7 separate regions of the Homo sapiens genome follow, and all the other regions are linked to region 5. The links come from fine-mapping of genetic effects on plasma protein levels. Region 5 holds a variant in brackets. A gene starts in each other region. All regions are shown on their reverse strands.

Region 1 (4,350 bases), not on the chromosome of region 5:
GTGCAAAAGTACAAGTTGGGAAGAACACACACATGCACATCATAATGTGTTGTGAAGTATGCCCATTTGTCTAAGAGCTTTACAAGAGATTTTTCATATAGTAACTGCAGAAGTAGGCTTACAAAAAAGACAACGAATTGTCATGGCTTAGGTGACAGATTCAGAAATCTGACACTGGAATTGTCTCTCTGAAGGCACTGCACAGATTTCTCAGAGCTAAGGAATACAGCCTTGCCCCAGGCTCACGGAGACAAGCAGAAATGGCACCGAGCAGGAGGTGACAAATTCAGTCAACTATACAGCAGGTGCCTCTTCATTTAGACCTAACGGTGGGGCCAGTCTCATAGTCCAGTTCCAGTGTGGAGCTCGGGGACCAGGTGAGGCCAGGCCAGCCAGCAGGATGTGTAGTGTTAGGAGGGAGGCCCAATGCTGCAAAAGGCTTCCACCTCTGGCAAAGCAGGTGCACCCTCCAGTGCAAGCCCCTCTTGAGGTCCATGCTAGTTTTCAAAAAATATTTCCCATAGCATTTGTAACTTTGTTTCTCATACTGGGTGGTGTGTAACACAGGTGGTTCTCTGCTGTTTCTTATTTGCCTGAAATGTGCGACAATAAAAATGATCAGCACAAGAAAGACATCACAAACATAAGAAAAGGGGGGCCACAGAAGGAACAAAAATCAGTAAGAAATGCAGCACTGGCAAGAAAGACCCAAACTTCAGAAATCCTCCAGATTTAGGGGATCTGAAATTTGAATTCTGGAAGGACTGGACTCAAGGAATTCCAACCTGAGATCACATTCTGGGTTCTGAGTATTCAGACTAAACATCTGCTGGGTGGCAATGGGCTGTTACCCAGTTCACCTCTACCCCACCCTCACTTCTAGAGGGATACCTCTCCACCCTCCTTCACACTCACACACACCTCTCACCTCTAGACCACACACACATCCCTCACCTCTAGACCACACACACATCCCTCACCTATAGACCACACACACACACCTGTCACCTCTAGACTACACACACACACCCCTCACCTCTAGAACAAACACACACACATCTCACCTCTAGAACACACACACAACTCACCTCTAGAACACACACACACACACATCCCTTACCTCTAGAACACACACACCTCTCACTTCTAGAACACACACACCCATCATCTCTAGAACACACACATCTCACCTCTAGAACACACACCCCTCAACTCCAGAACACACACACACCCCTCACCTCTAGAACACACATACACACCTCATCTCTAGAACACACACTCTCCTCAGCTCTAGAATACACATACACCCCCTCACCTCTAGAACACACACACCCCTCACCTCTAGACCACACACACATCCCTCACCTCTAGACCACACACACATCCCTCACCTATAGACCACACACACACACCTGTCACCTCTAGACTACACACACACACCCCTCACCTCTAGAACACAGATACACACACACCTCTAGAACACATGCACGCACCCCTCACCTCTAGAACACACACACACACATCTCACCTCCAGAACACACACACCCCTCACTTCTAGAACACACACACCCCTCACCTCTAGAATACACACACCCCTCACCTCTAGAGCGCACGCACACACACCCCCTTCACCTCTAGAACACACATGCACACACCCCTCACCTCTAGAACACACATACAGACACCTCACCTCTGGAACACACACACCCCTTACCTCTAGAACACACACACACATCTCACCTTTAGAACACACACACACACCCCTCACCTCTAGAGCACACACACACACACACACCCCCACCTCTAGAGCACACACACACACATCCACCTCTAGAGCACACACACACCTCCCACCTCTAGAGCGCGCGCACACACACACCCCCCTCACCTCTAGAACACACGCACACACCCCTCACCTCTACAGTGTGTGTGTGCGCGCACACACACACACTCATCTCTAGACCCCGCACAGCGCACCCCTCACCTGCAGACACACTTCACAGCCCCCTCCTCACTCGCCCCCATCGTTCAGGACCATCGCTGTCTCCACACTCACCTCTCCCCTCAAGGCCTCTCTCATTGCCCCCTCACCCCGAACTTTAGCGCCAGTTTTCCCCTCCCCAGGCCCTCCCCACCGTTGCCTCTTTCCGGCTCCCCTTCCACCCGGCCGACTGCCTCACCGCTGCTCGGGACTCAGCAGTGCGCGGTACTCGGCGCAGCGGCCCAGGAAGATGTCCCGCAAGTGTGCGCTGGTGCCCTCCCCGCGCCACCGCGCGCGCGCCCCGCCCGCCGCCAGCAGCAACAGTAGAAGCAGAAGCTGCAGCAGCAGCTGGAGCAGCCGCGATGCCGCGCACCCCTGGGCCGCCATCGGGGAACTTTGGTCCCTCCAGTCCCGTGCTTCCTCCACTCCCCTTCTCTCCTTCTACCAAGGCGGTTCCGCAAACTGATGCAGGGCGGGACTCTCGCTCGGATATCTCGCTGTTTGCCGTTTCCCGTTCCAGACAATTTCAAGACTGAGCGTGGGGCGGGGCGCGGCGGCTCATGCCTGTAATCCCAGCACTTTGAGAGGCCTAGACGGGCGGATCGCTTGAGTATAGGAGTTCGAGACAAACCTGAGTAACATACAGGTGAGAAACCTCCTCTCTACAAAAAAATACAAAACTTAGCTGGTCCTGGTGGTGCGCATCTGTAGTCTCAGCTACCTGCGAGGTGAGATGTGAGGAGGCTTGACCCCAGGGGATCGAGGCTGCAGCGAGCAGTGATTGCACCACTGCACTCCAGCCCTGGGCGACAGAGTGAGACTCTGTCTAAAAAAAAAATTAATAAATAAATAAAATTAAAAAAGAGTGAGCTTGGAACATCACCCAGGACAGGACCAGTGCACTGTGGCCCAGGCTAATCTTGACCGCTGTCCACGGGGAGGGAGCCCCAAAGAAGCCGCAAGGTTGAAGGAGAGGTGAGGAGAGGTCAGTCATCATCAGAAGAAATACTTTTCTGGCTCCAAAGGACGACAACTTTGACAGATGCCCTCTTTCACACCAACCAATAAGTGGTGTTTGTTTGTTTTCAGGAAATAATAACCACAACAACGTGCCAAGCACTTTGCAAGTATAATATTAATTACTTTCCGCAACACCCTTCCTAGCTAAGTTTGTAATTTCTCTCGCTTTAGCAATGGATAAACTCAGGGAAGTTAAGCATGTTCGGCCCTCCAGATTTGCGGATTCATCATCCAAATTCAGCTAACCACGGATGAGAAACATTTGAGGAAAAAAAGAATGCTTGCATCTGTACGGAACATGTACGGACTTTTTTTTCCTTGTCATCATTCCCTAAATAATCCAATGTAACAACTACTTATGTAACAATTACATAGTACTTGATATTACAAGGAATCTGGAGATGACGTGAATTATAGAAGAGGATGTGCAAATACTGTATACTACACCATTTAATATAAGGGCCTTGAGCATCTGTGGATTTTGGTATCCAGGAGGTTCCTGGAACCAATTCTCCATGGATACCTACCGCCGACTGTAACTTGTCAGAGGTCACAATATCCCTTCCTGATAGATGCAAAATCCTGGAGATGTTCAGTTTAAGAGAGCCAGGATTGGCCGGGCGCGGTGGCTCACACCTGTAATCCCAGCACTTTGGGAGGCCGAGGCGGGTGGATCACGAGGTCAAGAGATCGAGACCATCCTTGCTAACACGGTGAAACCCCGTCTCTACTAAAAATACAAAAGATTAGCCAGGCGCGGTGGCGGGCGCCTGTTGTCCCAGCTACTCGGGAGGCTGAGGCGGGAAAACGGCGTGAACCCAGGAGGCAGAGCTCGCAGTGAGCCGAGATCGGGCCACTGCACTCCAGTCTGGGCAACAGAGTGAGACTCCGTCTCAAAAAAAAAAAAAAAAAGAGCCAGTATTAATAGAATACCACGTGGAGGCCCAAGTCCTCAATTCTTACAATAATGACAGCAATGAACTTTGAGTGCCTGGCAAGCACTTGATAAACACAAGGGAGGACAGAACAGGTGTTCTCTACTGTTTTATTTGAATCTCTTTTTTTCTGTAACCAAAACCCGCATTCTCCTGTTCAGTTCCTCCTTAAGTTAAATCCACTTTCCAGAGGAAAGCATTTTTAATTCTTTCAAGTTTTGTTCCTGTGTTTACTTCCATATTTCTAAATAACATGTGTGAACCCGCAAATTTTGAGACAGGTCTCAATTAATTTAGAAAGTTTATTTTAGCAAGGTTGAGGACACGTGTCCATGACACAACCTCAGGAAGTCCTGACGACATGTACCCAAGGTGGTCAGGGCACAGCTTGGTTTTATACATTTTAGGGAGACA
Region 2 (4,350 bases), not on the chromosome of region 5:
TGTCTCCCCAGAGAAAATTTCATTTCAGATTTCTGGATAAGCTCATTTTCAAAAGTCAGTTTTTAAAGGATACCCTCTGTTCATGGACAGCAGATATTGCTTATTGGTTCAGTTGGCATACTTACTGACAAAAGCAATAAAGAATGAGATTGCCAATAGCAGGAAAAATATCAACAGTGAGGCACAAAGCAGCTTGGGGAATCCGGTATTACTTTTGTGAGGGGCAGTCCTCTCCTTGGAAGCTGAAGAAGAAGCCAAATTAGTTTTATCAGTAATAAGTTTGGTCTTTACTTCCTCTTCTTCCTCCTCCTCTTTCTCTCTCTTTTCTTGGATGACACACAGTTACTAACGGTATGACATTTGAAATCACATGAGAATAGGAATAGAAAGGATATAATAATATTCACTGTAGAAACTTTAAAAAATACATAAAAGTACGAATTCCTACAATTGAGGATAACTGTTATGCCATATAACTTATAATATACCATAATATTTTGGTATATATCTTTCTAGCAATTTTTTGAATGTATATATACACATATGCAAATTTTCCCACGATTGACATACCATAAATACTGATTTCTGACCTATTATTTTCCTTTACACTATATCATGAACATTTTTCATACCATTATATTTTCTTCTTTAACACTCCTTATTATGGTTGCATAGTATTTCATCATATATTTAAATAATGGTTTCCAACTTTAAATAATGCTATAGCAAATAAATCTTTATAATCATTCCTCATCACATGTTTAGAATAAAGTCAGTCTTTTTAGTTACCATCTCATGGTTAGGAATCACTTTCTTCGAGTTATGATATTTTGTCAAATGATGGGGGAAAAAAATTCAGTATTATATAATATGATTACATTTTTAGTAAAATACATATGCACATTATATGTATTTGTATGTGGAAGGATATTCACTAAATTGCAAATTATGATTTTCTCTAGATGATAAGAGTAATTATAATTCAAATATCTGTGTACCTCTGGTTAATTTTTTCTACAATGAACATTAATACTTGTGTAATAAAGAAATTATATAAAGTTTTTAAGGAGAAAAAATTTCCCTAAGTGCTCTCCACACCTTCACAGAGGTATTTTAGAAAGCGTAACTATAGTCCTGACCCCTTCCCCCATAGTTTCTTGTACTCTATATACATTCTTTTCTCTCTTTTGCTCTATACTTGAGATATCACACATGACACCCAAATCACCTTGCATCTACTCCCAAACGTAACAGAGTCTGTCTCAGAGATGCAACACGCAATAGGTTCTCTGATTTCAGAAAAAGTTTCCTGGAGATTTAAGAGACTTTCTTTGTAGACTTTCTAGTCTTTCATTTGCAAAGGCCTTTTGTTACATTTCCATCCATTACCAACAAATATACCCTCACCACTGTCCACCCAAACTCTTTCCCTCTAACTGATCAAAAAACAAATCTCACAAATTCATCAGGACCCCCTGCATCTGGATTGATGGTTTCAGAAGCTGTACTCAATCTCTTAACCCCAGCCCCACTCAGCCTCAGAAAACACAGGGGCATCAGAGCACTCGCCTTAGCTCAGAACTGGAGTGGATTTCTCTCACCTCTGTTTCAGTAAGCAGAGTGGAGGCTGAAGAGAGTGGCACAAAATCTTTTCTTCTCCACAATACAAATGTACACCCCGTAATGCGTATCTGCAGGCCACTCAATCTTCTGGGACTCTTGTGTTTCCCAGACATACTCAATCAGACAACCAGCAACTGAAAACACCTATGCCTTATTCATAAACCCTCTCCTCATCCTTCACCTCGTCATTCACTCTGACCCCTAGAAAATGATCTTTACCTGCAGAAGAGGCTGTGTTGATGCCTGAGGACTTGAATTCATTTTTGAACCTCACTTCAGCATAAGTGATTTCCGAAGTCATAATGGGAAGAGAGCTTCTGCTTTCTTCAGAAAATCTGTTTCAGATCTTTCTTAAAACATCTTATAAACAGGAACCAAACATGGTGGTAAATTACCTCCTTCCTTTCACTCAACTAGTGGAGAGCAGAGGCACCAGATAGGCACATATCCTCAAGAGGGGTCTCATGAGAACTAAGAACCACAATAAAAACTAAAAACCGCAGTTCACAGAAGCCCTTTCCTCAGGACCAGTATAGTGAGAATCACAGCCTTGAAACAAATGCAAGCAAATGCAATAAAAGTGGGAACTCAAAGGGTTGCGGAAAGAGGAAGAAAAATAAAAGAAGAACCAAGCACTTAGAGTCTTTCTGGAGAACTGCGTTTTTCACCAGTAAAAAATACAATTTCTGTGCTTCCACACACAAATGTAATTACTTTTGACCAAACATCCTGAACATAGACTTATGTTGCATTCATCTCATCAATTTTGACTGATCAGGCAACTTGTTAGTACCACATTCTAAGAGTATCATTGACACAAAACTCACATATCAGCCTCCCCACCTTCACGAATTAGTTTCCTGTAGCATGGTGGGGATGGCAAAGTTTAAACCCCATGTCTTCTGAAGCTGTTCCTCCATGCTCTCTGTGTTTCCTTGTTGGTAACTAACTCTATCAAAAGTCTGCATTCATCTTGCTAGAATCTCCAGAAAGCAGCTCCCTTTACTGGATGTTGGAGGAGAGGGAAGGCCAGCCTTTATTCCATGCTTCCCTAACCTTTTAATCGCCACATCACCTCCAATATATATGACTATTTTTTAACAGTTAGGAGAATTATATAGAATCACAGTATAGAAGGGGATAAACTTAAACAAAGTACTAAATATGACTTTTTCCAAAGGCCTAGAAGAAAACACTCCAAATATTAAATCCTTCATGTGGAATCTCTCCATAGACATGCTCCCAGCTCACACCTGGATTCTCTGCCCTCAACTCTCCGCAAATGATCCTCCTTTTAATCTCCCCCAGCTGATTCCTTCTCCTGCATAACACACATGCATACATGCATGCACACACACACAAACACACACGTCTATATTTCTATATTATTTCTATATCTAAATATATTGAACACCATGAGTTCACACTAATTCCTCTAATTCCAATCTAACACCACAAGTTTCATTCTAGTTTTCTCCCTTCCCACATTCCTAACTCCTTTCTGTGACACTAAGAAACCTGCTTTCATTGTCTTTCACTTATTCCTTATTTGATCAATCTCCTGGATGTCGTCAATCTCCCACCTGCTAAGATGTCCCTCTCTTCCTAGTTGGGCTCTGACTCCCCAGTCCAAGCCACCATCCCCTGCGCGGATGCCCTCCCTCCTCACTCTGAGAGTGCCGGCAAAGGGCCAGCCCACTCCCCACCCCCATGAACATCCCCCAACAAACATCCCCCTCACCCTGCCAAGGCTCTGACTCCCTGTGCTAGGCCATTCCTCTGCAGGAAAGCCCTCCTCACTCTGCTTGCACTCTGATTCCTGATGCTGGTCCCCTAGTCACCACTTAGACCCCCTTAGGTTCTAATGCTCCACACAAGGTCACCCTATGGGTGGAAGCCCTCCTCACCCTGGAGGGGTCTGATTTCCTCACCGGGCTATCCTACCACATGGACCACCTCCTTATCCTGCTAAGTTTCTGAAACCCACACCAAGTCCTCCCTCTGCATAGAAGCTTTCTTCATCCTGCTTGGGCTCTGACACTCCATGCAGGTCCTCCATCCCCCAGCAATAATGTCCATCTTACCCTACTTAGGATCTGAGTTCCCTCACTGGGCTACCCCACCACATGGACACCCTCCTTATCATGCTTGGTCTCTGAAACCACACCAGGTCTACCCTCTGCAAGGATGCTCTCTCTCCTCATCCTGCTTAAGTGCTGAGTCCCAACCCCAACTGGGCCAACACTAGGCATGGGTGCCCTCCTCACCTCTCCCACATGCTGACATACATACCAGGCTGGCCCTAGAGTACTCTGCTCAGCCATTTGCGACTCTGACTCCCTATAGAAGGTAACCTCATACATGGATGCCCTCCTCACCCTGCTTGCACTCCAACTCACTGCACCTGACTATCCCACCACATAGATGCCTTCTTTACCTCTCAGACTCTGACCTCTCACATCAGGCTACCCCTACTATGGACACCCTCCTCAATCTTATCCTCTGACACCCTGCACTGGGCCATTGCCAGGAGTGGACATCTCCTCGCTCTGGTTCCCCATGCCAGGACACTTTCCCACCCCTAAGGGATGTTCTTCTCACTCTGCTTGGGCTCCAGAACCACTGTCAAGCCAATACCCTGCATAGTCACCCTTCTCACCCTGCTAAAGCTCTCCCCCTGTGCCAGGCCACTGCTGCTCTCCCAGCCACCTCACCATAGACACCTAT
Region 3 (4,192 bases), not on the chromosome of region 5:
TTCCAGGATATGCTCATTTCCTCTGCAAGGTGACTGGGGGGCAGGAATGTTGGGGGCAATAATTCATTATTTTTAGCCTATTCTCACATCTCCAAGCGGGAGGAATGAGCTAGTCAATGAAAGGCTCCCAGAAGCAAACACAGAGAGAAGGCGGGTCAGGGGTGGATGCTCTTGATCCTTTTGCTGAGTCTTTGGCTTAGACTCCTGTTGGATATAATTCCTGCCCCAGCTTCCCTGACCTGACCCTACACACCTCCACATGCTTATTCCAAAATGGGGTAGGCTCCCCTGGAAACTCACCTCCAAGCTTTGCTGGTCATCAAGGGAAGCTTTGGGAAAAGGCCGTTTCCTAAAGTGGTTCCAGATTTACCACCGGATGACTCACTGGGACTCAGCTGAGCTCCAGGTTTGCCTCAGCTCAGCAGGCTGTAGGGACAGCCAACCTTGTCCCCTTCTAAGAAGATGATGGAACTAGGGTGCCTACGGTGTGCCCAGGGCTTCTTAGTTTAAAAGTTGGGCTGCTTGTTGCGACTTAGCTTCTCCTGGGTCTCTGGACTTCTTTGCTAGTCAGGAGGAGTCGGCTTTAGAGAGGTGCTTTTTCATAATTCCCTGTGACTGATTCAGGTCCTTGGACCCCACATTAATGACAGAGAGGTGAACCTCTGGGAGAGGGAGGAGTGGAGTCAAGTCGATGTCTCCAATCCTGCGGGTGGAGGCTGCGTCCCACCTGAGCCATGTTGAAATGGAAAGATTGCTGGCCCAGGCGTCTGAAGGCCTATAGGGAAGGCCTCCCTGGGCCTGTTTCCTTATCTGTCAAGGCAGCTGGGGGTACCCTTGGCGCACTGCCGGGGCTTCAAAAGGATGAACCCAGGACTGCTGTGAGCAGCCGTATAGACTGCGCAGCCTAGTTCAGGGGGCTTCCATTGTCTTCAGTGTCCTTACTGATAAATGGCTCAGTTAAAATCATACGTGCTATTAATAATAATTCCCACATGGTTAGACGTCCTCAGGACATTATTGATAGATAGATGGCCTTGGAAAAACACAGAGGAATGGGGTGATGATTCCAGGAGTAAATAAATCATCAGGAGGCATTTCTTCAGGGCCTGATGATTCCATTTTAAAGACAAAGAGCTCTGGCCCAACAAGTGCGGTTAATAAGTAACTTATGTGATGTGAGGGACAAAGTCTGGATTCAGACTCAGATCTTTGTGGTCGCTTTGGGTCCATTTGCCTGAGTATCTGGTGCCTTCTGAGAGGAATTAACATTGATCAGCCCGATTTTCTCATGCCAGTACTCAGCCTGACACCAGAGCTGTTATCTCAGAGGCAGTGTTCATGAGCTCTTTGGATCCTCCATCGGTGGCTCAGGGAGGCCACATTCCTGAAACCCGCAAGCCCACACACACCCCATTGGATATTACTGTGCCACTTCTCTTGTTGTGCCCTGCCAGGTGACTGACTAATGTGTGCTGGGAAACAATATGGTTCTGTTAGGGAGGAAGCTGCTTTTTTTTTTTTTTAGGAAAATGCTGTGATAAGCAGCCTGAAGGCAGATGGTGAGGAGAGGAGAGAATAAGAGATGGCCAGAGTCTCTGCTTATAAAAATAACTCAGATTTTGTCTTCTCCATGAGACCTACTACAACCTCCTCATTGAAAGTGGAAGCCTGCACCTGCTCACCCCCTAGCATGGTTGATGACTTATCCTACTCTTTGTCTTTTTGCCAGAGCAGTCACCACATTCTGACTTTCCCTGTGATTTGCTTATTTACCACTTTAATTTATGTTGTCTGTAGTCCTCTCTAGACTACACTCCAGGAGGGCAAAGGTCTTTGTCTTTTTGCTCACAAATACCTCCCGGTTTCCTACAGTAGGCCTAAGACAGGGAGGGTGCTCAAAAAATGTTTGTTGAATGAATGCATGAGTTTGGGGAAGGAAGAGAGAGCTGAGACACAGGTAGCGTAGCCATCCCCAAGGGGTATTTTCAAGAGCAGGGAACTGCAAGGTTTAAATGCAGGCTGGGGGATACTGGTATGATGTGTGCCCCTCAACCTCTGCATCCTCGGCTGAGTGGGCTCCTCCCACTCCCCACCGTGTGTGTATAAAGTGTCAGCACAGTGGAAAGATGAGGAGGGAAGATAACTCAAGTCCACACTCAAAACCAGGAGCACCCATGGCACAGTGTGAGGAGACTGGGAGAGTGTGAGGGTTAATATTGAGTGTCAACATGATTGGATTGAAAAGTATTGCAAAGTATTGTTCCTGGATGTGTCTGTGAGGGTGTTGCCAAAGGAGATTAACACTCGAGTCCGTGGACTGGCAGAGGCAGAGCCACCCTCAGTCTGGGTGGGCACCATCTGATCAGCTGCCAGCTCTGCTAGAATATAAAGCAGGCAGAAAAATGTCAAAAGGCTAGACTGGCCTAGCCTCCCAGCCTACATCTGGGTGGACATCATCTAATCAACTGCCAACACAGCTAGGATAAAAGCAGGCAGCAGAACGAGGAAGGACCAGACTGGCTGAGTCTCCCAGTCTCCATCTTTCTCCCATGCTGGATGCTTCCTTCCCTCAAACATCGGACTCCAAGTTCTTCGGCTTTGGGACTCTTGGGCCTACACCAGTGGTTTGCCAGGGGCTCTCAGGCCATCAGCCACAGACTGAAGGCTGCACTTTTGAGGTTTTGGGACTCAGACTGGCTTCCTTGGTCTTCAGGTCACAGACAGCCTATTGTGGGACTTCACCCTGTGATCATGTGAGTCAATACTCCTTAATGAACTCCCCTTCATACATATATAAACTCACCTTCTCTAGAGGACAGAGAACCTGACTAATACAGAGAGGCCTCAGTTGACCTGACCTGGGCTGTTACCAGTAGCTGCTCAGATCACTTGGCCAGAAAGACTCTCTCGATGGCTGCTGTGGGCTCTCACCCAGTGTGCAGAGCACACTGCAGGCAGGGGCTTCACGTCATGGTCCCTCTACCACACTATGAGGCTGCACAGTGAGTTTACACTCATCTTGGTTGGAGGACCCTCAAATCTAACAAGGTTAAGACACTTGCCTGTGGGAAACTGAGGCCCTTTCCTGAGTTGCACAGACCCCACATAGTCTGATTCGGAGCTCTGAGTTCTGACTGTGCCCCGGCTGTGTGCCCATGAGCATATCTCTTATGGCTCTCTTTCTGTGCTTTGGTTTTCTCATCTATAAATGGGCTAATCATGGTGACTGTTAGCAGGTTGTTAGGTGCTTGTCATTAGCAGGTCATGGAATTGACTTAGAAGGCCACAGACAATGCTGGAAGATACCTTACTCCTGTTTACATTTTGCCAAAGGCAGGCCTTGACCAAAGTTGTTCCCAATTCCTAGAGGTCTCAGAGAGGGCACGAGCTGCACAGATGCCAAAGGGTTGGGCAGCCTGTAGCTCTATTGGGCAGGGCACAGTCTGAGAGCCAGAAGCCTTAGCCTGTCTGACCCAGAGGTCCCACCCCAGAAGACAGCTGTGCTTTTTGATTTTACAGCCACCTGCTATATAAGGCCTCTCCCATACCAGCCCTAAGCCTCTACTGGGAACCACCTTCTGTAGGACAGTCACCAGGCCAGATCCAGAAGGTGAGAGGACTGCGAGGCCGGGGCCTGAGCCCTGGGAGAAGCTGAAACCGCAGGAAGGGCATTCAGGACCAGCTCAGGTCCTTCCCCGGCCAAGTCCAGGACATTCTTGCGGCTCTTGCTCCTTTGGCATTGCCCTAGGCAGTCGTATGCTCAGGAGAGGGAAGTCTGGAGTTCAGGGAGGATGTGGGCTGGGGATGTAGTTTTCTTGTTGTTTTGCCATCTGCTACTGTGTGTGTGGTTTGTGTGTAGTGTGTGCGTGTTCTGTGCATCATTCTGTGTGTGACATTCTTCATTCTGTGTGGTTTTGTGTCCTCACAGCCTCTCTAGGCTCCAGCTTTCTCTGTGGAAGATGACAGCAATTATAGCAGGACCCTGCCAGGCTGTCGAAAAGATTCCGCAATAAAACTTTGCCAGTGGGAAGTACCTAGTGAAACGGCCTAAGATGCCACTTCTTCTCATGTCCCAGGTGGGGGCCCTGCCTTGAGCCCCAGCTTCACTGGTCCCTCTTACCCACAGAGGTGTTGAGCACGGCCCTGGGTCCTGCTATGGGGTCACTCCCAGGCTCTGTTTCTCTGCTAGGTG
Region 4 (4,350 bases), not on the chromosome of region 5:
CAGCCTGGGCAACATAGTGAGACCCCGTATCTACAAAAATATTTTAGAAAGTAGCCAAGTGTGGTGGCACAAGCCTGTAGTTCCAGCTACTTGGGAGGCTGAGGCAGGAGGATCGCTTGAGCCCAGGAGGTTAAGGCTGCAATGAATCATGATCACACCACTGCACTCCAGCCTGGGCAACAGAGCAAGACCTTACCTCTAAAAAACAAGAAAATTACCTTTGACCAGGCCAAGAAAATTACCTGTGGCTCATGCCTGTAATCCCATCACTTTAGGAAGCTGAGGCTGGAGGATCCCTTGAGCCTAGGAGTTTGGGACCAGCCTGGGCAACACAGGGAAACCTCATCTCCACCAAAATTTTTTTTTAAATTAGCTGGCCATAGTGGTTCACACCTGTGGTCCCAGCTACTCGTGACACTGAGGTGTGAGAATTGCTTGAGCCAGGGAGGTCAAGGCTGCAGTGAGCCACGATCATGCCACTGTACTTCAGCCTGGGCAACACAGCGAGACCTTGTCTCTAAATCGATAAATGAAATAAAATGAAATAAAATAAAATAAAATAAGATAGGGAAATTTCACATCCATCTGAATAACTAAATAAAAAGGTATAAGTATTTTGAGATATGCAAAAATTCAGTAAGTTTATAGCCATACGATCTGTATGAAAAGGTTATTCTAGGACATGCTTCAGTAAAACAAGCAAAAATGCAGTTAAAGGATGAAATGAGAGTGAAGAAAACGTTGCTGTTGAATGAGATCTAGCAGAAATAAAGAAAATGAAAAAAAATTAAAAAGAGACTCACTCAGCCTTAGAATTTTGGAAATATTTTGTGAGGGCACATGGAATTCACATTCTTTGTCCAAGTGAGAGACAATATTGCCTGATGGTTAGGACATGGGGTCTGGAGGCAGACTACCTGGAGTTAACCACTATCCATAGTTTGATTTGTAAACTTTGCAACCTTTGTAGTAGGTTCATACACAGGCACGCCCATATGAAGACACATACCAGCACGTAATCATCTGTAAACCTGGGAATCAACTTGCTGAAGCCAACTCCATTTTTACCCGAGTACCCCACAATTGCCGATACCAGTTTCTGATCTTCCCATACACCTTAACAACTTTCCACTTCTCCACTTCTTCCATTATCCTTCATTAGGTGAAAGAAAGCCATTTACTTACTCCTAGGCATACCTGAATGTTCTCTCCTATCTAAGACATTGTCATACAATGCCAGCTCCTGTCTCCCCTCCAGCCAATAAAACTAACAAAAGGGGATACGCTCTTTTAACCTCTTGGAGTTTTGTTTCTTTAAGGCAAAGATGTGATTTGCTAAAAAGACTGTTGCAAAATGATTTCCATAGCTTCCCTAATGTGTTTTTTCCAGGTACAGAATGCTACAGAGAAAAAAATTAAATACTGCATAAATACATTATCACATTAACTAGATATTGGTGCTATTACTTGTGTTCTGAGTTATACCCTTCTCCCATGCCCATATCATATCCCTTTTCTTCCACTTTCCTTCCTGAATAATTCTGACTAGATTTCAAGCACCAGATCAAAGAAAGACCAAAGAAGGCTAAAACCACATGCATTCTGCTAGCAAACTCTACTCAGCAAGAGAGACCCTGCCCAGTAAGAACGTGAAATGAACACCTTCACTTACTTGGATGACTGCTAGCCTTTCCTTTTTTCTTTAGTCCAAATCCAGACATTTCATCAGGGAAGTGTGTGGCAAATAGACGGCACTCTCGAAAGTGAAAGTAAAGCTTGAAAAAAAATGCTTTTATGTTTGGTGCATTCCAAGAAGGGCAAAGGGAGAAAACAAAAACAATCTCTGACAACCTCAGAGAGGCGTTTCAAACCGCCTCTGAAAAACACCTAGTTTTTATTTTATTTTAACTTTTTTTAAGCTGAGATCCTTGGATTTCATTGAAAGGGTCACAGATTTAGCAACAGCTAAAGTTGAAAGTGGGGACCTCACCATTTGATGTGGGCGGGTCTGGACCTCTGCAAGTTAAGGAATAACAGTGAATCCCTCAATTTTCTGCTAGACTCATGCGAAGCTGTCAGAATTGAGTAGTGTATGGTCACAGGGACAGAAAAAAAAATCCCTAATCAAAGCTGAAGTACTTTCCCTTCTTTCGTCTGGCTTTTATCTCTTTGCAACACTGTAAAATAACACCGGCAGAAATTAACCTCTTGATCCAGGAAGAAACTGAGTTTCACAGCAGAGAAAGAGCCAAACATGGCAAAGCTGAGAGCCAGTCCCACTCCTGCTGATCCACTTTTCCACGGTCAGACGCGTTAGGGAACAGATCAGTATGCCCAGAAAAGTTCAGATTAACTAAGAATTTCGTTCTTAATTTGCTTTAATGACTCCAACTAGTTAAGTAAATGTACTTGTTAAGAAATGAACTCACTTTTTTTCATTACAGATGTGCTATGATCTATTATAACTATATTGTTATATAGTGAAATATCACAATTGGAAGGAACTATAGACCACCTAATCTAACTCCCTTGTTTGAGAAATTAGGAAAACGAAACCTAGGGAGGTGAGTGGTTTGCCTAAGAACATGCCACAAGCCACCATATGCTTCAATCACACAAGTCATAAAACAACTGGACGGCTGGGACATGGCATTAGCTTGAACTCATTGCAGAGCTGATGGCAAGAAACAAGCGTGCATCATGGTGCAAAGTGCCCTCTTGTGGGCTCCAGCTTCAGCTAGACCGCTTTATAGTTACTGGGCTCAGGGCTACATGTCTCTGATTTTCATTTGTGACATCTGTAACATAACACCATAAGCAAACAGATGTCCTGAGTACGTGACTGTCCCTCACATCTATCCATTGGGATGTCCAGGAAAACTTCACTAATATTCAAAAGATTTCTTCTCTGTGAGCGCCTTGAAGGCAGGGTGAGGTTTATTCTTTGCATTATAGCTCCCCAGCAACCCTCTGAGGTAGACTGTTTCTTTGGCCTTCAATGAAAGAGACTCGTCCTCAGAATTCAAACCCTTGTGTGGCCTTCTCCCACGCTGACTCTAGGCTTGGCCATTTGACTAGCTTTGACCAGTGGGATATTAGCAAGCATGCAACAAGGTCTCATTGCCAAACACGATTACCCAGGCTTGAGAAGCAAGCAAATAAATGATTGTTGTTTTAAATTTAAAAAAATTGGAATGGTGTCATATGCATTATTAGCGAAATAAAACACATCATCTCAACAATCCTTCATACCTATCCCTTATGCCTTATGACTCCTTATACAGATTAAATTTCCCACGACTTTGGTTGACTAATGAATGGCTCTCGATAAATAAATTTTATTGATGGTCTCCTGATGCAGTAGTTTGGGCTTAATACCAGTTCATATTCAGATATTATTAGTCCTTAATTCTTGCTAGTTTCTAAATACAACACAGATTGTTTTCTCTCTACTGTACATTTCTTAACTATGTGCATTAACTTATTTAGCTATGATGGTGATTGGAGCAATAGTGAAAAACCTCATTTTTCCCCTTTTTAAAAGAATTAAGGCTGGGAGCAGTGGATCATGCCTGTAATCCCAACACTTTAGGAGATTGCTTGAGCCTAGGAGTTCAAGACCAACCTGGGCAACGTGGTAAAACTCCATCTCTACAAAAATTACAAAAATTAGCTGGGCATGTTGGTGCATGCCTATAGTCTCAGCTACTTGGGAGGCTGAGGTGGGAGGATCACTTGAGTCCAGGCAAATTCAAGTTTGCATTGAGTCATGAGTGCGCCACTGCACTCCAGCCTGGGTAACAGAGGGAGACCCTGTCTCAAAAAAAGAGAGAGAGAGAATTAAAAAAAAATGTATGCCCATAAATGTAAAATAACAAATTTAGTAAACACTGATATTTCACAGCATTACAGATCAGCCAATCTCAGAATAATGGGAAGCTGTATATTCCCAGCAAAACAGAGATCTACAGAATTCTAGAAGCCAAAGTCCCTTAAATTTATTCACATTCTAAAAACTCTAAGTTCCCTTCTTCCATTTGAGGGGCCTCTTTAATGAGAGTTTAGTAAGATAATATACACAAAATTTCTGGAAGAATCACTTGACAAAACACAGCAAGTTACAGAGACCGGAGTGACAAGCCAGATATAATTAGCAAATTACCACTCACATGCTGAACTACACAGACACTGTTCTTCTCTGCCCGTTCCTAATAACAATTCTTAATAAAACAGCCGTTTTTATTTTTTTTAATCTTTTTTTTCCTGAGACAGAGTCTTGCTCTGTCACCCAGGCTGTAATTCAGTGGCGCGATCTCAGCTCACTGCAAGCTCCGCCTACCGGGTTCAAGT
Region 5 (4,350 bases):
TGCCTCGGCCTCCCAAAGTGCTGGGATTACAGATGTGAGCCACCGTGCCCAGCCAAAACTGAGAAATCTTTAAAGATTTATTTATGAATTCATCTTATAACAATAAAAACTCATTACACATTAAGATAAATAACATTTTAATGAAAAATAAGTATAGTTTCCAAAGAAAAAATGTAATGATAGCCAGGCATGGTGGCTCATGCCTATAATCCCAATACTTTGGGAGGCCAAGGTGGGCGGGTCACTTAAGCCTAGGGATTTGAGACCAGCCTGGGCAACATAGCAAGATCCTGTCTCTACAGAAAATACAAAAGTTAGCTGGGCATGGTGGTGCATGCCTGTAGTCCCAGCTGCTTGGGAGGCTGAGGTGGGAGGGTCACTTGAGCCTGGGAGGTGGAGGTTGCAGTGAACGGAGATTGCACCACTGCACTGCGGCCTGGGCAACAGAGCGAGACCCTGTCTTAAAAAAACAAACAAAGAAACAACAAAAAAAAAACCAGCCAGGCGCGGTGGCTCACGCCTGTAATACCAGCACTTTGGGAGGCCAAGGCGGGCAGATCACAAGGTCAGGAGTTCGAGACCAGCCTGGCCAATATGGTGAAACCCCGTCTCTACTAGAAATACAAAAATTAGCTGGGCATGGTGGTCGCGCCTGTAGTCCCAGCTACTTGGGAGGCTGAGGCAGAAGAATTGCTTGAACCCGGGAGGCAGAGGTTGCAGTGAGCCGAGATCGTGCCACTGCACTCCAGCCTGGGTGACAGAGTGAGACTCCATCTCAAAAAAAAAAACAAAAAAAAAGCGTAATGAGAAAACTGGCATTATTTTGCTGTGTTGCACATCTCTTTAATGTCCAGCTTAATAGAAGACAGCTGGGTCCTCATGGAAGCTTCTGCTTTCAGTCTCTTGCAATATCACATGTCCTGGAGTTTTTGGAAAAGCCCATTGTACACTTATGAGAGTGAAAAAGCCATGTGAAATCACAGATCTCCTGAAAGGGTCTCTGGGGTCCCTGAGCCACACTTTAAGAACCGCTGCTCGCTTCCTTTCTTTCTTTTTTTTTCTTTCCTTTTCTTTCTCTGTCTCTCTTTCCCTTTCTTTCTTTCTTTCTTCCTTCCTTCCTCCCTTCCTTCCTTCTTTCCCTTCTCCTTCCTTCCTTCCTCCCTCTCTCTCTCTTTCTTTCTTTTCTTTCCCTTCTTCCCTTCCTCCCTTCCTTCTTCCCTCCCTCCCTCCCTCCCTTCCTTCCTTTCTTTCTTTTTATTTGTTTTTTGAAACAGGGTCTCACTCTGTTACCCAGGCTGGAGTGCAGTGGCGTGATCATAACTCACCACAGCCTCCATCTCCTGAGCTCAAGTGATCCTCTCATCTCAGCCTCCCAAGTAGCTGGGACTACAGCTGTTTTTTTCTTTTTTATGTTTGTAGAAACAGAGTTTTGCTATGTTGTCCAGGCTGGTCTGGAACTCCTGGGCTCAAGCTATCCTCTCTCCTTGGCTTCCCAAGGTGTTGAGATTACAGGCATGAGCCACCACACCTGGCCCTGAGAACTGCTGCTTTCTCTAGGTGGTAGTGAAGGTGGCACCCACTGCAAGGTGGCAGGTCACCTACTGGAGAATTCCAGTCCTGGGCCCAGGAGCTGGAAGTCTCACTCCGTCTTCTCTTTCCTCAGAACCGAAAAACCAAAGCTATATGGTAAGAGGCTGTGCAACCGCCTCAATGTGCCAACATGCCCACCTGGGTGACGCCTTCAGCATGAACCACATTGATGTCTCCTGCTGTACTAAAAGTGGCTGTAACCACCCAGACCTGGATGTCCAGTACCGCAGTGGGGCTGCTCCTCAGCCTGGCCCTGCCCATCTCAGCC[T/C]CACCATCACCCTGCTAATGACTGCCAGACTGTGGGGAGGCACTCTCCTCTGGACCTAAACCTGAAATCCCCCTCTCTGCCCTGGCTGGATCCGGGGGACCCCTTTGCCCTTCCCTCGGCTCCCAGCCCTACAGACTTGCTGTGTGACCTCAGGCCAGTGTGCCGACCTCTCTGGGCCTCAGTTTTCCCAGCTATGAAAACAGCTATCTCACAAAGTTGTGTGAAGCAGAAGAGAAAAGCTGGAGGAAGGCCGTGGGCCAATGGGAGAGCTCTTGTTATTATTAATATTGTTGCCGCTGTTGTGTTGTTGTTATTAATTAATATTCATATTATTTATTTTATACTTACATAAAGATTTTGTACCAGTGGACAAGGCCAGGTATGCCCTTCTTTGTAGTGTCTATCTTTGGGAGGATAAATGGTGGGGGACACCTTTTCACAGGCTCCTGGAATCAGGGGTCATGTTTGAGGCCCCTGCCTAGGTTGGAAGTCCTCCTGGGGGCTGCCTCCACATCTATTTCTGGACTCCAAATGCTGACAGAGCAGGAGCACTGCCATCTTGAACAAACACCACCATTCTTAGTTCCTCTTGATTAAAAATCGGCTAAATCCGGACGTGGTGGCGGGTGCCTGTAGTCCCAGCTATTCGGGAGGCTGAGGCAGGAGAATGGCGTCAATCCGGGAGGTGGAGCTTGCAGTGAGCCGAGATTGCACCACTGCACTCCAGCCTGGGTGACAGAGCAAGACTCTGTCTCAAAAAAAAATCAGCTAAATCCAGCCCCAAAACATCAGCCTAATGGCTACCATCAGCATAACCAGAAACATTCCAACCCTAAGATAAACCCCTCTCTGACCAGAAACATGCCAACCCCCAGATAGCCTCCCTTCCGACCAGAGACTTTCCAACCCCACAATAAACTTTTCCTCACATGAAAACATTCCGAACCTAGATAAGCACCCCCTTCCAAAACTCTTAAATATCCTTAGTCTGTAAAAAAAAAAAAAAAAAAGGGCTCTCTAACCTAACTCAGCCAAAAGCCCCCCTCAGGTTGGTTTTCTCTAAAATAAACCTGTCCTTCACCGTCAAGCCACATTTCATGTTTCTTTCCTTTTCCTTTTTCTTTTCTTTTCTTTTCTTTTTTTGAGATGGAGTTTCACTCTTGTTGCCCAGGCTGGAGTGCAATGACACAATCTCAGCTCACCACAACCTCCACCTCCTAGTTCAAGGGATTCTCCTGCCTCAGCCTCCCAAGTAGCTGGGATTACAGGCATGCACCACCACACCCGGCTAATTTTGTATTTTTAGTAGAGACAGGGTTTCTCCATGTTGTTCAGGCTGGTCTCAAACTCCCAACCTCAGGTGATCTGCCCACCTTGGCCTCCCAAAGTGCTAGGATTACAGGCATGAGCCACCGTGCCTGGCCTCCTCTTTCTTTAATTCTTACAAATGCAAGCTTCCAGATCACACACTGAACACTAACCTTCTAGTCTTCTCCTAAACTTCAAAGGTTGCAACTATTTTGTTGTTCTAAGGAGACATCCCCACATTTCCCAGCATGCTTTGGGAAAGGAGACGGATAGAAGATAACCTGATGGCCAGAACTCCCTGCATGCACTGCAGTGAGGAATAAGGACAGGAGTGCACTTCCCCTGATGTGCTGGGGACCGGGGATAAAGGCTGGGCTCTATTTCCCGGGATGCCTCAGGACTGTCAGAAAAAGAGACAGAACTACCATTTCAATGGCACTCTAGGAGCACAATATTGAAAAATTCATGTTCTTCTCATCATTTGCTAAGGCAACCCATGGAGACAAAAATTACATTCCCCATCAAATCTTGTGGCTAATGAAGAAAAAATAAGATATCTTCGGCTGGCTGTGGTGGTTCACGCCTGTAATCCCAGCACTTTGGGAGGCCGAGGTGGGCAGATCACTTGAGGCAGGAGTTTGAGACCAGCCTGGCCAATTTGGCAAAACCCCGTCTCTACTAAAATTACAAAAATTAACCGGGTAAGGTGGTGGGTGCCTGTAACTCCAGCTACTCGGAAGGCTGAGGCAGGAGAATCGCTTGAACCCAGGAGGAGGAGGTTGTAGTGAGCCAAGATCACACCACTGCATGACACAGTGAGACTATCCCCAAAAAAAAAAAAAAAAAAAAAAAGACATCTTCCATGGTATTTGGGGGCAGGTGAGGGACAAGGTTCTTGTTTAGGGCTTTCTCTAATGACATATCACCACCTGTCACTGTAGTGGCTTAAAGAAGTGAGGTCTGTACTTCTGCCTCTTGAATATGAGTGACTCTGTGACTGCTTTGACCAGTAGAATGTGGTGGAAGTTTTGCTGTGCTATGTTCTGGAACCAAGTTTTAAGAAACTTTCATTTTTCACTTTCTGAATCTTAGAACGCTCACTCTGGGGAAGCTGGTTGCCATGTAAAAGTACTACTGCCCTGAGACCACCATGCTGTGAGGAAGCCCAAGCTACTCATGTATAA
Region 6 (4,350 bases), not on the chromosome of region 5:
CAGCAGCCCCTCTCCTCCTAAGGCCCAAATTCATTTTGACTGGTCCCCATTAGCCTCTTGGTATCAGATCCTGCTCACAGACCTGGCTTTTAGTTCCCTTTACATTTCTAATACCTGGAATTTCCTTTTATTGGATTTGACTTCAGTTTGGAACCAGATGATAGCTTCTGTGTCAACTCGGTCTTACTAGGTGGTCGGAGTTTGGATTTTCTAATTGGATTATAATGAAATGTGCCTATATTAGACATGGTGAGTTTATAGTTTTTCAACCATCAACACATGCCTTTGCTTATTCCCATTTCTTTTATTTTATAAACAACTGTAGGGATAAGATTTTCAAAAAAGGAACCAGAAGAAAACATTATAAAAGCAGAACCAAGAAGGCTGAAGATTTGTTTGGTCCTCTTGGTGGAAAGAACTGAAGCCTGCAACTGTTGTCTCTGCTGAATAAATGGCACAAGGGTTGCTATGGTTTGAATGTTCCCTCAGAAACTCGTGTTGAAACTTAACTGTCAATGTAATGGCATTGGGATGTGAGGTCTTTAAGAGGTGATTAGGCCATGAGAGCTCAGTCCTCCGAGTGGATTAATGCTGTTATCTCCGGAGTGGGTTAGTTATTGTGAGAGTGGTTTCCTGAGAGGCTGAGTTCAGTCCCCTTTTTCTCTCTGTCTAGGAGGCTTGCCTGCTGTCTTGTCTTCTGCCATGGAATGACGCTTGTCAGATGCCACTACGATGCTCTTGGACTTCTCATCTTCAGAAAGCTAGGAAGGTGAACAAATTTGTTCTTTTTTATTATTATTATTTGAGACAGAGTTTCTCTCTGTCGCCCAGGCTGAAATGCAGTGGCGTGATCTTGGCTCACTGCAACTTTCGTCTCCTGGGTTCAAGCAATTCTCCCACCTCAGCCTCCTGAGTAGCTGGGACTACAGGCTCATACCACCATGCAGGGCTAATTTCTGTATTTTTGTTAGAGACAGGGTTTTGCTATGTTGGCCAGGCTGGTCTGAAACTCCTGACCTCAAGTGATCTACGTGCCTCGGCCTCCCAAAGTGCTAGGATTACAGGCATGAGCCACTGCACCTGCCAACTTTTGTTCTTTATAAATTAGCTAGCCTGTAGTATTCTGTTATAGTAGAAGAAAATGGACTAAGACACAATGTTGTGGCTACTGTCAGCTCTGCTCATTCTGGATCCCTCAAGTGTGTGGCTCATGTCACACATGGGACCAGGGTCCTGGTGTTTTATTGTTCCATCCAGGGCTCTATTCTATATATAATCTATCTATCTTTCTTTCTTTCTTTTTCTTTCTTTCTTTCATCTTTCTTTCTTTTTTTTTTAGATGGAGTCTCTCTCTGTTGCCAGGCTGGAGTGCAATGGTGTGATCTTGGCTCATTGCTTTGCAACCTCCACCTCCTGGGTTCAAGTGATTCTCCTGCCTTGGCCTCCCAAGTAGCTGGGATTACAGGCACGTGCCACCATGCCTGGCTATATAATACTTCATCAGATATGGTGGTACAGAAAAGATAAGAAGTTGTGCTCTTACAACAAAAGTTTGAAATATCAGATGATCCAGTAGAGTTCTAAAAGATAGTAAAGATTAGAGGCTGTGGGTATCAAAGATGGGTATCTCTGGGGAAAGAGAAGGAAAGAAATTATATTTTCAGATAGCTATGTCTTAGAGAAGAGTATCTTCTGATGTGCAAGTTGGATTAGAGAGAATGTATAGCTAGTGGAGGGACCAGATGAGAAGCTATTTCAATGGTCCAGGACTATTCTAAAGGTATTTAATATTAACTGGGCAGTTACTATGTTCCAGGCACTGTATCAAGCACTTTACTTACATTAACTCATTTATTTCCTGTGGCAACCCTTTGAGAAAGAATTGTCATGAGTACTCTATTTTACAGATGAGGAGACTGAGGAGGAGAGTGATTTGGCAACATGCCCAAGGTCAGATGATTAATAAATGATGGAGATGAGATTTGAGTTTGTGTGACTTCAGAATCTATGCTGTTGACCATGACCCATATACTGAACTAGGTTAACAGTGTATAACCAGGTGGAGCTTCCCTATAGGAAGTTAGAAAGTAGGATCTGGAGCCCAGGAGAGATATTGGGATATTGGGTTAGAGGAAGAGGTGTGAAGTCATCCGCATGGAGATAACGGTTGAGAAAGACATGGGGAGTGATCACCACAGCTCCTTAAGTAGAGGGTGTTTTATGATTCAAAAGTAGGCAGCCATAGAGAAGGGAAGCTCCTTAGATCGATGAAGTAATCCCAGATAGGAAGAAGAGTGAAAGAGGCAGGGAACAGAGTTTTCTCTGTTGGAGAGGTTTCGTAAACTGGGACTGACTTTCATGAAATTCCGAGTCATGAAATCTCAGGGGGTGACTCAAACATTACGTTCACATTAAATGAAGGCCAACAGATTTTCCTGTTTGTGCTTGGTCCATTCTCAGAAACGTCTCTTGCCACCCTTTCTCTTCTGCTAAGTAAGGCTTAAAATTAGGAAGCATTCTTTAAAAGGCAAAAGAGGAAATAGATGAGTGAGAACACAAAGGAAACTTGGACAAGTAGAAAGTGGATGACCCAGGCTCCGTTACATATACTTGGATTCCAGCTGGGACCTAGATTTGCTGAGGACGGAAGCCAAGGAGACAGGAACATGTGGCTGCTCCCAGCTCTACTCCTTCTCTGCCTCTCAGGTGAGTGGGGCTGTGGCTTTGGGGACTTGGTTTTGCAGGGGGCAGGACAGTAGGTAGAAGAGCTGTCCTGGGTTCAAACCAGAGGTGAAGTGTCCACAGAAAAGGGAAAGATACATCCGTTCATTCACCTGTGCATCCTTCTATACATTCAATCATTCATCCACGGATCCTACAAACACTTACTGAGCACCAGATATGTGCCAGGACTGTTCTGGGTGCTGTAATTAAGAGTAACTTCTGAACTGAGGGAGTCAACTAACTACAATACAATGTGGAAATTACTGTTGTAGAGACTCATTCATGTGGTGATGAGAGTATGCAACAGGAACCCCTCACTTTGCTCTTGGAAGGGTGGGAGATGTCACTGAGGCTTCATTGGAAGTCCATCCTGCAGGATGAATGAGTTGGCTGAGTGGGAAAGGAATAGCTTATGTGCAAGTGTGAGGACATTAAAGACCATGGAGAGTTCAAGAATTAACAATAGTTCTGTTTTGACGAAGCTTAGTGTAAAGGGGTTGGAATGGTTTGTGAGAAATAATTAATGGGCTGGGCGTGGTGGCTCACGCCTGTAATCCCATCACTTTGGGAGGCCAAGGTGGGTGGATCACCTGAGGTCAGGAGTTTGAGACCAGCCTGGCCAACATGGTGAAACCCTGTCTCTACTAAAAATACAAAAATTAGCTGGGCGTGGTGATGCATGCCTGTAGTCCCAGCTACTAGGGAGGCTGAGGCAGGAGGATCGCTTGAACTTGGGAGGCGGAGGTTGCAGTGAGCCGAGATTGCACCACTGCAGCAGTCTGGCCTGGGTGATAGAGTTGAGATCCTGTCTGAAAAAAAAAAATGCCATCCTCAACATCTACCTTAAATCCTTCCCGGAACAAGGTGTGGTGTAAACAAGTAAATGAAACTGTCCTGCAAAGGTTGGACTTCAGAAGAGAAACTCTTATTAATAGACATTCAAAATACAAAACTGCAGGAAAACACATTTGTCTCTGGGGAAATAAATTTAGGCTAAAAATTAGAGGACATTCTTCATGTTTGCAGAATGAATTTTATGGTTGAGTTCCCTCACAAAACATAGAAATTGCCCAATGTAATGACAAGATTCTTTCTAGAAGGGTGAGTGAAAATGACAGCGATTTAAAGGAAGAAGACCAGGTAGGTGACATGGACCCAAACTCGTGGGCTCAAGCAATCCTCCTCTCTTGACCTCCCAAAGCACTGGGATTACAGGCATGAGCCACTGCACTCAACCAATGTTTGCTCATTTTGTATTTGAATTTGCTTCCTTTTTCTTTGCCCTTTCCATCTCTCTTTCCACCCCTATCTCATTCCCCATCCTCAGACTCGCAATGTGACCTGCGCAGGTCCCTCTGAAAATCTTAACTGGGAAAGAGAGATGGAAAGGGCAATTCTAGCAGGGAGGGGAAATGACAAAGAGGAAGGAAGCAAATTCAAATACAAAATAAGCAAACGTTGGTTGAGTGAGGTGGCTCACACCTGTAATCCCAGTGCTTTGGGAGGTCAAAGCAGGAGGAATGCTTCAGCCCAGGAGTTTGAGATCAGCCTGGGCAACATAGCAAGACCCCATTTCTACAAAAAAAGAAAAGTAAAAAATTTAAAAAGAGCAAAACTAGAATTCTA
Region 7 (4,350 bases), not on the chromosome of region 5:
GAATGGTAGCAGTCCCTCCCCCCGGAACGCTCTCCTTCCTGTGAACTTTCTGGGTCCATCCTCCCAGCAAGGAGGGGTCATAGATGAGTCGCAAGGCTCAGAGAGGTCTGGCCACATGCTCCAGGCAGCACAGCAAGTGCAAGTCCTGGGAACTGCCCTCCCACCCTCTGCAGGGACGTCCTCCTTTCAGGGGCCAAGCTTTGCTCCTGTTAGGGCGGAGGCTGCAGCCCATGTGACCAGGGCCCTGGTCCAGACACAGCCCTGGATCCGGTGCCCGCCTGGGGTGTGCAAGGACAGAGGGTCTCTCTGGCTTATCCAACAGGTGTTTATTAAGGGCCTACGCTGTGCTGAGGCTGCCATTCAGGGAGCCCCACGAATGTGAGGCCTGGCCCCTTCCTCCAGGCCTCCAGGCCCCATCTCTGGAGACTCCCAGGAACTCACGTCGACTCCTGTCCTCCAGTTCTACTCAGTCCACTTCATCTCAGCCTTTACCGGGCCCTCCTGAGTGCCTGTCCCCTGCTGGGTGCGGGGGACACCACGGACCAGACCTGGCTCAAGTCATAGATGGGGTGGGCAGGGAAGGCTTCCTGGGGGAAGAGGTGCCTGAGCACAGGGTTAAGGGTGGAGAATGCTGGGCCATGGAAACAGCAGCAGAGAGGGTTGGAGGGGCCATCTGCAGGCGGATCTGTGTCAATAGAGCCGATCTGCCGGGTGGGAGTCCTGGAGAGGGCCATGGGAGGGTCAGGGTGGGGGACAGGGGCGCAGACATACATGGTCAGACTTGCGTTAGGATGTGCCTCAGGAACCAGGACAGGCTCCCACTGGGCCGGGTGTGTGAGGAGTGGCACAGAGGCCTGGGGCACCACACCCAGTGTGGGCTGCAGCGGGGCCCCCCAGAGCCTAGAGCTGGCCGGGTCCCCAGAGCAGCAGGCCGAGTGCAGGGAGCAGCGCAAGGATGGCAGCAGCCGGCTGCAGGGCATGGGCCCCGCTGGCGTTGCACAAGTCGGTGTCACAGCACGTGATGTTCTTCTTGCCCACGTAGTAGTCCTGTGAGTCATCCACGCAGTTCAAGCTGCAGCCTTTGCTGATGACGGTCAGGAGGCCAACTGCGCCTGGGGAGCAGCGGGATCCGGGGATGGGGCTGCCCTGTGTGCTCACCTGCCTGACCTGCCCCAGGCCTCCTCCTGTCCCACCCTGCCTAATGCTCTAGAGTCCCCCTGGGCTGGCCTCAGGATTGCAAGCAGTGCGAGGGCCTGGTCTCGGCCCTGGTCTCAGCCCTATCCAGATGTCCGAGGCAGATGGACCACCCGCTGAGCGTCAGAAATGGGGTGAGTGAGTAAGTGAGCTCAGGGATGGGGAGGGACAGATGGGTGGAGGAGTGGAAGATGGAGGATGGGGAGGGACAGATGAGTGGAGGAGTGGCAGATGGAGGAGGATGGCTGGAGGGACAGATGCTGGGTGATTGTTGGGGGTGCAGGTGCGGGACGGGTCGGGGACAGGTGGAAGGAAAACAGCACACAGATGCGGACAGATGGCCAGAAAGATTAATAGTTCAGTGGCAGAGACCTAGGCCTGGCGGCTGTCGTCCCCCCACTCACGGATGCGCGCGGTCCAGCACTGCTCCCCCAGCTGGGTGCAGTTCTCCACCTGCAGGCAGTCCTCGTTGCTCACCTGGGCTTTGCAGGAGTAGCACAGCAGGGCAGTGCCTGTGGGGTGGAGTGGGAGGGGCCTCAGAGGCTGCCCCATAGCACTCCCCAGGAATGGGGGCTCCCAGGCAGGTGGGCCTCCATGGCGGTGGCCTGAGGAAGTCCTCGGCGCCCTCTTGTCACCCTCAATGTCTCCTCCCCATCTTCACGGCCCCCTGCTCAGTGCCTCCGAAATGTTGCCCTGTTTAGTCCCTCGGTGGCTGCTTTTGTGACCGTGTGTTTCAGAAGAGGAAGCTGCGGCTGTGGGGGTGACTGAACCCGGGACCCTGGGTCGGGAGGGTCCCACCTCAAGCAGAGCAGCTCCCTGGGACCCTTGGAAGCTGCAGTGCTGGGACTGGGCCGGATGTAGACCCCCGGGTCCTCGCAGGACACCCCCAGCACCTCCCCCTTGTGCCCCAAAAACCACTTCTTAGCCTGAGGCTTCCTGTCCCATGTCTCCCAGCTCCTCATCAGCATCTCTGCCCATCCATCCGTCAGTCTGTCTACCTGCCCCCTAGGAGCCAGGCCCTGCCCCACGGTGGTGAAGGAGAGTGACTCCGTGCTGCCCCTGCAAGCCCCGGTCACAGGGGACGGCAGGGAACAGGTCGCTGCCTGGTCGTGCCAAGAGCTTCCCTGGAGGAGCGGAGGCTAGGGCAAGAGCCTCACCCCCTTCCTCTCCCTTCCTCCTTCCTTCCCCTCCTCTCCGTGTGCCCTGCAGGTATCCCTCTGGCCTCCCCGGCTCACCCCTGCTCCCTTCCCTGCTGGGGGCCAGCCAAGGCCTCACCTGGCTGCAGGGCCAAGCCTGCCATCAACAGGGCAAGCAGCACAGCCTTCGTGGTCACTGGTGGGCTGTGGTGGAGAGGGCCTCAGGTGACTTTATATGGCCTCAAATGGGGAGAGGCTGGACTGCCCACAGTCAACACCAGCGGGTTTCCTGGAGCCAGTGAGGGCCCCGGGGCTGGGCAGGTCCGAGTCTCCTCCCTGAGCGACCTGCACCTCCCTCTCCCTTTGTCCTTCTTTCCACCTCTGGAGGACAGAGCCTACCCAGGGCCATATCTCAGCCACCCCGGGCTGAGGGCTGAAACGTCCTCAAGACCCAGATTATGCCTCTCCCACCTCCCCCACCTCACAGTGCAAGGCCAGACAAGGGAGACCCTTTCTCCAGACTCCTCCAGGCCTCGGCCTTCCAGCCAAGGATGAGGGCACCTCCCTGGGCCCTGTGCTCCTATAGAAGCTGTGCCGCCCTCTGGGGCCCACGGCCCGCAGGGTGATGAGCCTTGGTCACAGCGTCACTGACAGATCATTAGCAGGTGCTGCAAAGGACAGGGGCAGGGGCTGTTCCGGTATAAACCAAAAGTAACATTCTAAGGCCCCCCAGCCATCTGAGTGGAACCCTCCTCTTGGCAAGGGCTTTCCGAAGTTAACCTGAAAAACTGGTTCAGGCCATGACAGCAAAGGGTTGGATAGCCTCATTATCCCTCCTCCCTTCAGAACTCTGGAACAGCCAGCGTTAACATCAACACAGGCCTTCAGTCTGATGAGAAACATTTACCATCTATTGTCTCGGAAGCCTGCTACCTGGAGGCTTCATCTGATGATAAAGCCTTGGTCTCCACAACCCCGTATAACCCAGACATTCCTTTCTATTGATAACTCTTGCAAGCGATTGCCAACCAGAAGATGTTTAAATCCACCTATAACCTGGAAGCCCCCAGTTCCAGCTGCCCACCTTTCTGGACTAAACCAATGTATATCTTCAATATATTTGATTGATGTCTCATGTCTCCCTAAAATGGGTACCATCAAGCTGTGCACTGACCACCTTGGGCACATGTTCTCAGGGTCTCCTGGGGGCTGTGTCACAGGCCATGGTCCCTCATATTTGGCTCAGAATAAATGTCTTCAAATATTTTACAGAGTTTGGCTCTTGTTGACACAGGGGACAGCCTCCCTGGGGAGGAGACCCTGTTGGACGGGCCTTCATTTATGGGGCATTCAGTGTGGGCTGAGCCCTGGGCTAGGTGCTTTACCCTCAGGACCTTGAGTGACCCCCTCAGCTTGGAACTTTAGCTGCAAACGAGTCGGGGAAGTGCAGCTTTTAGCAGCCTCTGCAGTAGCAGGAGGCAGCGGCTAGGCCCAGGGCTGTATGGCCTCTGTTTGCCCCAGATCCCCTCTCCGTCCTGCTCCATGTCCTGGGAGGCTGGTCCAGCTCCCACAGGCAGGAGATGAGAGAGTGGAAGAGGCAAGTTCAGGCCAGCTCTCCTGCCAGTCAGCTGGGAGGTGGTGGCAGTGGCTATGGCCCTCTAGAGCAGGCCCAGCCCGCTGGGCGGTGGTGGCAGTGGCTATGGCCCTCTAGAGCAGGCCCAAGCTCTCATGCCAGTCAGCTGGGCGGTGGGTGGTGGCAGCGGCTATGGCCCTCTAGAGCAGGCCCAGGCTCTCATGCCAGCTGGCTAAGTGTTGGTGGCAGTAGCTATGGTCCTCTAGTACAGGCCTAGGCTCTCCTGCCAGCCGGCTGAGTGTTGGTGGCAGTAGCTATGGTCCTCTAGAGCAGGCCCAGGCTCTCCTGCCAGCCAGCTGGGTGGTGGTAGCAGTGGCTAGGACCCTCTAGAGCAGGCCCAAGCTCTGCTGCCAGTGGCTGGGTGGTGGTGGCAGTGGCTATGGCCCT

Direction of the effects. Positions count from the first base shown, and alleles are read on the strand shown. Strength reflects both the effect of a copy and how common the allele is.
As copies of C replace T in region 5, the plasma level of the protein whose gene starts at base 2,448 in region 1 goes down (strong association).
For the plasma level of the protein whose gene starts at base 2,186 in region 2, T is the high allele of the variant in region 5 and C is the other (moderate association).
For the plasma level of the protein whose gene starts at base 3,556 in region 3, allele C in region 5 goes with a lower level than allele T (moderate association).
With allele C in place of T in region 5, the plasma level of the protein whose gene starts at base 1,765 in region 4 is higher (moderate association).
As copies of T replace C in region 5, the plasma level of the protein whose gene starts at base 2,550 in region 6 goes down (moderate association).
In carriers of allele T in region 5, the plasma level of the protein whose gene starts at base 2,538 in region 7 tends to be lower than with C alone (moderate association).

The links. PIP is the posterior inclusion probability: the model's chance that the variant is causal. The UK Biobank Pharma Proteomics Project read protein levels with antibody pairs (Olink). The fine-mapping took linkage between variants from a reference panel, not from the people measured, so its PIPs are less certain.
Region 1: BST1 starts here. The variant in region 5 is fine-mapped to the plasma level of the BST1 protein (UK Biobank, PIP above 0.99).
Region 2: it holds the start of CLEC4A, and the variant in region 5 is fine-mapped to the plasma level of the CLEC4A protein (UK Biobank, PIP above 0.99).
Region 3: LYPD8 starts here. The variant in region 5 is fine-mapped to the plasma level of the LYPD8 protein (UK Biobank, PIP above 0.99).
Region 4: it holds the start of TLR3, and the variant in region 5 is fine-mapped to the plasma level of the TLR3 protein (UK Biobank, PIP above 0.99).
Region 6: it holds the start of CD300E, and the variant in region 5 is fine-mapped to the plasma level of the CD300E protein (UK Biobank, PIP above 0.99).
Region 7: PSCA starts here. The variant in region 5 is fine-mapped to the plasma level of the PSCA protein (UK Biobank, PIP above 0.99).

What each region holds. Positions count from the first base shown.
Region 1 is chr4:15,701,163-15,705,512 of GRCh38, reverse strand. It overlaps BST1 (bone marrow stromal cell antigen 1), which reads right to left and starts at 2,448. Exons shown (of 9, transcript NM_004334.3): 1 at 2,181-2,448. The coding sequence starts at 2,368. RefSeq lists a silencer at 2,430-2,509.
Region 2 is chr12:8,121,453-8,125,802 of GRCh38, reverse strand. It overlaps CLEC4A (C-type lectin domain family 4 member A), which reads right to left and starts at 2,186. Exons shown (of 6, transcript NM_016184.4): 1 at 1,843-2,186; 2 at 126-242. The coding sequence starts at 1,924. RefSeq lists an enhancer at 2,267-2,316.
Region 3 is chr1:248,755,123-248,759,314 of GRCh38, reverse strand. LYPD8 (LY6/PLAUR domain containing 8) reads left to right here and starts at 3,556. Exons shown (of 7, transcript NM_001085474.2): 1 at 3,556-3,610; 2 at 3,929-4,076.
Region 4 is chr4:186,066,571-186,070,920 of GRCh38, reverse strand. It overlaps TLR3 (toll like receptor 3), which reads right to left and starts at 1,765. Exons shown (of 5, transcript NM_003265.3): 1 at 1,673-1,765.
Region 5 is chr19:43,646,457-43,650,806 of GRCh38, reverse strand. It overlaps PLAUR (plasminogen activator, urokinase receptor), which reads left to right. Exons shown (of 7, transcript NM_002659.4): 7 at 1,664-2,228. The coding sequence ends at 1,917. Among named protein-coding and RNA genes, the nearest start is that of CADM4, 8.8 kb to the right of the region's middle. The variant T/C (reference allele first, on the strand shown) is at 1,859.
Region 6 is chr17:74,621,938-74,626,287 of GRCh38, reverse strand. CD300E (CD300e molecule) reads left to right here and starts at 2,550. Exons shown (of 4, transcript NM_181449.3): 1 at 2,550-2,706. The coding sequence starts at 2,667. It overlaps LOC101928343 (a long non-coding RNA gene), which reads right to left. Exons shown (of 4, transcript NR_158152.1): 4 at 292-761.
Region 7 is chr8:142,678,683-142,683,032 of GRCh38, reverse strand. PSCA (prostate stem cell antigen) reads right to left here and starts at 2,538. Exons shown (of 3, transcript NM_005672.5): 1 at 2,470-2,538; 2 at 1,599-1,706; 3 at 308-1,112. The coding sequence starts at 2,494. The coding sequence ends at 901. RefSeq lists an enhancer at 1,147-1,793.